Homo sapiens: one gene and its partner. The protein of the gene in region 2 purifies or fractionates together with the protein of the main gene of each other region. This does not show direct contact. Each region holds a gene or a part of one and is shown on either strand. Other genes may lie near its edges.

What was found.
Region 1: the proteins of TPPP2 (region 2) and BTBD1 purify together in Homo sapiens (affinity purification with mass spectrometry; one large-scale study listed by BioGRID and IntAct). This does not show direct contact.

The regions. Positions count from the first base shown.
Region 1 is NC_000015.10:83,015,666-83,019,151, forward strand, and holds the end of BTBD1 (BTB/POZ domain-containing protein 1), read right to left. Parts: intron 3,189-3,486; coding exon 3,042-3,188; intron 2,561-3,041; coding exon 2,402-2,560; 3' UTR 758-2,401; downstream 1-757.
Region 2 is NC_000014.9:21,028,545-21,033,076, reverse strand, and holds TPPP2 (tubulin polymerization-promoting protein family member 2), read right to left. Parts: upstream 2,861-4,532; 5' UTR 2,773-2,860; intron 2,565-2,772; 5' UTR 2,496-2,564; coding exon 2,323-2,495; intron 2,066-2,322; coding exon 1,912-2,065; intron 1,186-1,911; coding exon 1,000-1,185; 3' UTR 758-999; coding exon of another isoform or gene 710-757; 3' UTR 262-709; downstream 1-261. UniProt on the Homo sapiens protein: Probable regulator of microtubule dynamics required for sperm motility. In contrast to other members of the family, has no microtubule bundling activity.

The DNA of each region.
Region 1 (3,486 bases), on a different chromosome or scaffold from region 2:
GCCCAGCCTAGCTGACCTTTTAATTTCTTTGCCTGTGAAATGGGTACTTCCCTCATACTGATGCTGTGAGAAACAAGTAAGAATGTAGTAAAGTACTCATTGCAGAGCCTAGTAGTCACTTGGGTAGTTATTAATAAACAGCTGTAAGATGATAGTCACACTCTTAACAGTAAATAAGATTATTTATTGGATTCTCCCACATTCAACCTCCACCTCCTGATTAGAACAGGAGAAAAACCTGAGGCCACAAGAAATGATCAAGAAACAAAAGGCTGCGGCAGTTATCACTGCAGTTCCTATGAACTGGTTTAAATCAGCAATGAGGTATTTGTATTTTGTATTGCATTACTCCCATTAAGTTAAACCTCAATTAACTAGAACCTTTGTTCCAAAATGGTGTTGACAGCCAGGCGTGGTGGCTCACGCCTGTAATCAATCCCAGCACTCTGGGAGGCCAAGGCAGCTGAGGTCAGGAGTTCGAGACCAGCCTGGCCAACATAGTGAAACCCCATCTCTACTAAAAATACAAAAATTAGCTGGGCGTGGTGGTGGGCACCTGTAATCCCAGCTACTCTGGAGGCTGAGGCCGCATAATAGCTTGAATCCAGGAGGTGGAGGATGCAGTGAGCCGAGATTGCACCACTGCCCTCCAGCCTTGGCAACAGAGCGAGGCTTCATCTCAAAAAACAAACAAAAAACAAATCAAAATTCTGTTTATATTCACTTTTAGAAGAAAAAGGCAAATGACATAAAAGAGTTTTTTTTATATATATATATATTTATTTATTTTTAAAAACTCCAGGGGATGTCCCAAAGTTAGTAAACAGTTCTGTTTCTTGTCCCTTTTATGGCTGCATGCAGTTTCAATTGTTCAGTACAACAGATGAGGCATTTAAAAGGTCTCCAACGTCAAGAAACACTAACTCATCTCTGGCATATCATATTTTTTAAGGCAGAAGTATTTTCTGTAATGGTTACTACAGAGTGTTTACTGGTTAATTTTTAGTTAACCAGAACCACACATCCCATAGATAATTCCATTTAACTGAGGTTTATATCCGTAAGAGCATTACCATAGAAAAATTTCCCTTTAGCAATTTCAAGAGACCTCAGCCACCAATATACCTACCTTCTTTACAATATAAAGTGAAATATTACTTTAGATGAAAATTTTTTGTATCTTACTTAGAAAAAATTAAGTTGATATTTAAAAGAATTTTGATTTTTAATCACCTTCCACAACGATTTGATATACCTTAAACTCCACTTTCATTTTTTATAAGAGAATCACTTTCAAGGGAAAAAAATGGATGTTACTATATTTTAAAATCTGCTTTATAAAAAAGTGTATAAATATCAATCTGCCAGATATACTTCCTATCCCCAACACAGCTGTAACACTGACTAATGGGGTCATGACCATGAAGCAAATTTTACTTCCTAAATAGAAATGTGTAGGTGGCAGAAAGCGTATTTTTCAGCAGGAGTGATTCTGTTGGATCTCTTTACAATGTCAGAGCAGTTGTTAGAAATGTTAGTATTTTATTCGGTTTCTTGCTGTGAAGGATTATCACAATGTTGAAGTGATGGCTGTTCACCCAGTCGTCATCACCGTCATCATCTCAATCTTGGGAATCATCAGCAGTGTCCCCCACACAGAGAGACAGGTATAGTGGTGCAGTTTAGTGACAGGGAATCCAGTCTTAGATCCTGTTTATATCACATTTTTGTGAATTTACACAAAATTCCATTTATAGCTTTAAAACTGTACTACATAACACATTACTATACTACTACAAAATATCCTTCTCTATAAATGCACTGAATATTTTCTTGGGCATTTTATTAGGCCTTTTTTAGCATTATTACAAATGCTAACAACAAGATACTTCAAACCACCAAATATAAAGTCAGCTTCTTAATTTTCTGAAATTTAGTTATTTGAGTTAATAAGAATTCTGTAGGAATACTGACCCATCTCTTTTCATCCAACCTTCAAAATAGTTAAGCCTATTTGCCCATCTCACCTAACCTTCAAAATAGTTAAAACAAAAACAAACCCAAACTAGCTATATATAACAAGAATCTTTCAATTCCCAAACTATTGAAAGACCCTAAGTCAGCCAATCTATGAAATTATACAAGATGAAGGTGAAAAAGCTGTGCTTTTTTTTAAACCATTAAACCCAGTTCTTTTCTCTTAAAGTTGTAAGAAAATGGAAAATCTGTTTTTAAATCATGCAAAGATTTAAATAAGCATTTTTCTATCTGCTCTAAGAAACTGTTTCTTATCTTACAATTTTAAATATTCATAACACTCAAACTACTTTTTTGTGGCCATTTATGTTTTTGACACTAGATTGTATGGTATTATTTAGCCAAGATGTATTATAATGCTAAATTATGTATAAAATATGATTTCTGGAATTTGTCCATCTTCTATTGAAGTGCCATTATTATTGCCAGGGGAACTAAAAAAGAAAAAAACAGTCTTGCTTGCAGCAGGTGTCTCATGCACTACTTTCTTCAATCCTTTTGTGCCATAGTGGGAATCTGGACCCTAAATGAGAACAAAAGGTTCCTTAGTAATTTTCATTTAATAAGCACTCAGTTTAATGTGGTGTTTTAATTAGATTAATGTTCCATTATATTTCACTATCATTCCTATATAAAATTTTATGCTGTCATTTAGAGAAAAATGAAGTTTTTACCAAAAAACTAATTAATGAATAAAAATACTGAATGTACAGCCCAGCTATTAGAGAATAGTGAAAAGATTTTACAAAAATAACTTTTATTTTCTGCCAAACATTCAACTGCTTACTGAAACAAAGGGCTACTTCTTAAGAAGAGCTATTTCTTTCAGAACAGAGCTGTGGGGAGAAGTACTTCTTTTCGGAAGGCAGTGGAATATTTTAGCTCCCAGCTTCTTTTCCCCCCTCTTTATAAATGGCTCAGCTGTCAGTGACTCTCAGCTTCTAAAACACACATTCTGCAACATTCAAGAGGAAACCATCTGGAACATAGTGCATGACTCTTACTTTGAGTGTTGCACATGCTGTGTAGCACACATTGGGCAGGATCTCTATGGGTTCCTTGAACATGACCCTGAATGTGTTAGCTGTCCCATCACAACTAAAGCCGGTATCATTCTGTCCCAGGGTTTGCTTTTTCTCATATTCAATGATCTGTAATTTTTAAGAGACAAGTTACATTTAAGTTAAACCAAATAAAGCAAACTATAGAAAATAATATAAAGCCCTTAGCAATGTGTGCGTGTGTGTTTTGAGACAGACTCTCACTCTGTTGCCTAGCCTTGGGGGTGGGGGGGTGGGGGGTGGTGTGTGTGTGTGTGTGTTTGAGACAGACTCTCTCACTCTGTTGGTGGGTGTGTGTGTGTGTGTGTTTTTGAGACAGACTCTCTCACTCTGTTGCCTAGCCTGGGGTGCAGTGTTGGGGTCTCGGCTCACTGAAACCTCCACTTCC
Region 2 (4,532 bases):
TTCCCCAGAGGTTCCTGCTTCCCTTCTCTTCCAGAAGCTCCTCCCAAATCCCCCAGACTCCAGAGTCTGCCCCTGACCAGGCAGCGAATGAGGCAGGCCCGGCTCTAATCGAACATAAATTTCTAAAACCACATCTGAGTATGTAAGATGTAACCATTGGGGGAAACTGGGTGAAGGGCACACGAGCCCCCTCTGTACCATTTTTTGTAACTTCCTGTCAACCCATAATCAATTCAAAATAAAAAGTTAATAACACACATCTGACTCTGTTGTGATTTAATTGCTTTTTCTTCAGTGCACCAGAACTCCTGCTCTTGGAATCCTGGCAGCCTGCCTCATCTGGCCATCTTCCTGAGCTACCCTTAGCAGTCAGTAAGCTCTTCTGTCCCATGTGCCCCATGATGGAGGTGATGTGGGGTAAAACTTAGTTCTGGGCTGGGTGTTGAAAATAGACTCTCCCCTTACCCCAGCTCTGGAACAAATTTGTAATAGAAGTCAGGCAACCTTAGCTGGCTTCTACTCCTCCACCCAAAAAACCTGAATTGCAACAGATGAGGAAGGTGGAGGGACAGGGAAGGATCTAATATGTGATATAGTCATAGTCCATCACGTGAGGAATTGCTACACCCTTTTGAGGGGTGGGGGTGGAGAGGTGGATATCAGTAATGTGTGAACACAAGTAGTAGATACTTTTACCTCCACATCTGGTTCATCTCTTTACTCCAAATATATTCTTCCATCCTGTTCTTGGAAGCAGCTGTTGAGGAGGAATGCTAACTGATGGCTGGTAGGCATAAGGCTAAGCAGAGCGAAGGGTGTGTGGTGGAGAACCCACCCTCCTGTGCTGCCTCTTCTCCCTCTCTCTACACTAGTAGGCTCATCTGTCCCTCACAGACAGAGATTTTGGCTGCTGCACACACAGATGTTTATTGTTTTCCAAGCTCCCTGGTGTTAAACATGCAGGGTCAGGGGGCTAGCAGGCTGAGATGAAGCTCCTCTCTACTTGGTCTTCTTATCGTAGGTGCCAGAACCCTTGTAACCACTCACATAGCCTGTGTTGTCAGTCATCTCTTCCCGTCCCGCAATGCCCTTGCCCTTGCCACTCTCATCAAAGCGCTCCTTGTGGGTGCCGGTGTACTTGCTGGTGTCTGTCAAACGGTCCACTGCACCCACTGTTGTTGCTTTCTGCAAGCCAGGGATGGATTTGAGCTCTCTTCCTTTCCTTACGCTGTCATATCCCTTCCCCAAAGATGGCCCGAGATACTTAGAACAAGTGCTTGGAGCTCTTGCTCTGCCACTGGCATGGGGTGCTGCTTTCTTAGGGCCCAGATACAGCTGTGGGCAGGTACTCTGGTAAGAGCCGTTCACTCATGGGGGAGGAGGAGTGTGGTGTGGGAATGAGTGTGGCGTGTGCAGAGGGAGGGTAGGTTTTTTGTTTCCAGAGGAGTTATTCTGACTAGGCTGCTGCCTGAGGACTTCACTCCCACTCCCCGACTCAATATCCACTGTAGAAAGAGCTTTTAGTTCAGACAGGACAATTAAAAAAGGGAGTAGGTGAGAGGCAGGAGGCCTGAGATTAAACCCTAAATAAGAATTGGAAGAGGAGTGGGCATCAGGTACCAAATTCTCTACACTAATGTCCTCCAAAAGCTACCAAGCCCTAATTGCCTGGCTCAGATACTAGACACTTGGAAATTAGTCTAAATCTACTATTAAAATAGCCATGGACCTTGGGCAAGTCACTTCCCTTCTCTGGGCCACATTTTCCTGACTTCTGGAATGTCTAGATGATCTCTAAAGTCTGTTTCGGCCCTGTCTCTACAGTCACACAGTTGGCAGGGTTAGGGAGGGTAGACTGGAACAATGGGGATTTAGGGAAGTAGGGTCAAGGGGATGAAGGCTGTCACTCACAGTAGCGCCAGTGGTGGCTGGGTCTTTGCCCTCCATGAGTCCATAAATGTTCTCCAGGACTTCATCTGGACTCTTCCCTTTGAAGCGCTTCTGGCCCAGTTCCTTCACTGCCTCTTTGAACTGTTGAAACGTGATGGTTCGGGCGTTCTTGGCCCTGGTCAGTTAGACAGAAATCCAGAAACTTTGGAGCATGAATGCATTACCTTCCAAGGTCCAACTCTTGCCTCACTCAGATTTGGCCTCTTTTGTCCTATCAATCAGTGAGTGTCTCGAAGACAAAGGATAGCACAGCGCCAGGTACCCTGTGGTGCTTGGTAGGCCCACTGCAAATGTTCCACCACGTGAACCCTTCCGTGGCCAACTACCTCGCAGGTTCTTCTCACCCCCACCTCCATATTTTTGGCTCCTCACTTGACTTTGCTGAACACGATGTCCACGTCCGTGGAGGTGACTGTCTTGCCATCCATGATGCCACAGTCTTTGCACAGCTTGGAGAAGTTCTTGTTGTTCATTTCAGTGCCACTGCTTGATGATTCTCCAAACGCAGCAAACCGATGGAATGTTTTTTCTGCCTCTGATGCCATGGTCAGCTAGAGGTCGGGGAGGGCAGTCGTGGGAGACACTTGGGGGTGAAGGAGAAGGGGGAGGGAGGACTGTGGAGTAATGAGGATGAGTGTTATGGTAAAATCAGTCAGCAACAGGAACAGCTCCCCTCTTCCCTGTTGCTCTCTCCTTTCTCCCTCCCAGCTCCCATTGCACCTACGCAACTACAGCATGAGTCTCCCATTCCCAGCATTGGAGATACCAGTGTGGATCCTACCTACTGAATGATCCTCTCTTTCCCCTACCTCTTTTATGTACCTTAGAGTACCCGGATGGTGGTCTGACCCTTCCCGGCCTTTGTATTTAAGTGTGTGCAGATATGTGGGAGCCGGTTGGCTGTGGCAATGAGGAGACAGAGGGAGGAGAGGGAAGATTCTATGACCTCAGCAGTGGTTATGTGACATCACTTCTGGCCCCAGCTACAGCCATTGCCTTCAAAGGAGGGGGCTTTTGGTCTCCCTACCTTGCATGCCGAATTGAGCAAACTGCCAACTTTCTGACCTTTTCAGATGATCACATTTCCATCATTTCAGCCAAGCTTACCCATCCTCTGGGTCCTAGTCAAATTGCCTTATGCTCTGCCCCACAACAGAAGCTGAGGCGAGCCCAGGGAAGGTGTTGTAGTCTGTTTGGGCTGCTAGAACAAAATATCAAACTGGGTGGCTTATAAACAACAGACATTTATTTCTCAGAGCTCTGAAGGCTGAGAAGTCTAAGATCAAGGTGCTGGCAGATTCAGTGTTTGGTGAGGGCTGCTTTCCGGTCCATAGATGGCACCTTCTTGCTGTGTCCTCACATGGTAGAAGGGGTGAATGAGTTCCCTTGGGCCTATTTATAAGGGTATGAATCCCATTCAGAAAGGCTCTGCCCTCATAAAACTTAATCACCCCCCAAAATGCCCCATCTCCTAATACCATGACTTTGGGAGTTAGGATTTTATTTTATTTATTTGCGTATTTATTTTGAGATGGAGTCTCGCTGTCTGTTGCCCAGGCTGAAATGCAGTGGCATGATCCTGGGGCACTGCAACCTCCAGTCCCAGGATTCAAGCGACTCTCATGCCTCAGCCTCCCCAGTAGCTGGGATTAGCCCAGCCACTATGCCTGGCTAATTTTTGCATTTTTAGTAGAGACGGGGTTTTGCCATGTTGGCCAGGCTGGTTTCGAACTCCTGACCTCAAGTGATCCACCTGCCTCAGCCTCCCAAAGTGCTGGGATTACAGGTGTGACCCACTGCGTCCAGCCGGGAGTTAGGATTTTAATATATGAATCTGTGGACAACATAAACATTCAGACCACAGCAGTTAATGAAAACGGATTAATGAAAACAGGCTGTCATGTTTTCTAGTCTCCAGGCTCAAGTGTAGCATGGAGAATCCCACTGGCTTTAAAAGGCCAGTCGCAATAGAAACATTAAATAGCTTCCAGTGTTGGGCCCAGCAAGCCTTGGAGTATAACAGATGTGGACAGGTCAGGATAAAACTGGGATAGACTGAGGGTGAGGCTCAGATTCTGAAAATCTTCAGATAAGTTTCTATGCAGGTCAAAGATGTTCCTCAGGGTTTTCTCTCTTCGGCCTTTTCTCTGGCCAGAAGCACTACAGATAGATGAACCTCACGGATCCTAAAACAGAGCAACGAGACTGGTGACTTTCCTCCTTTTCCCATCTAATAATGCCACCACTTTCTATTTTTTTTCTTTGTCTTACAAATCTATGCCTTTCTTTCCATTCCTATTGCTTCCACCCTTATTCAAGTTCTTATCATCTCATAGTTGGATGACTACTCTGGTTTCTAAATGATCTCTTTTCTAAATCTAATTCTTCACTCCCACCCACCCATAATCCATCTCTATTACCTCCTCCCCATCAGATTAATTTTCACAAAACAGTATTTTTTATTACTCCTGCTCAAGAATATTCTGTGGCTCAAGATATACTATAGCTTCTCATTGCTAAATCTTTTTGCTTAGCATTCAAGGACCTATACAACTAACTAGGCCCCAATCTACCCTACCAAA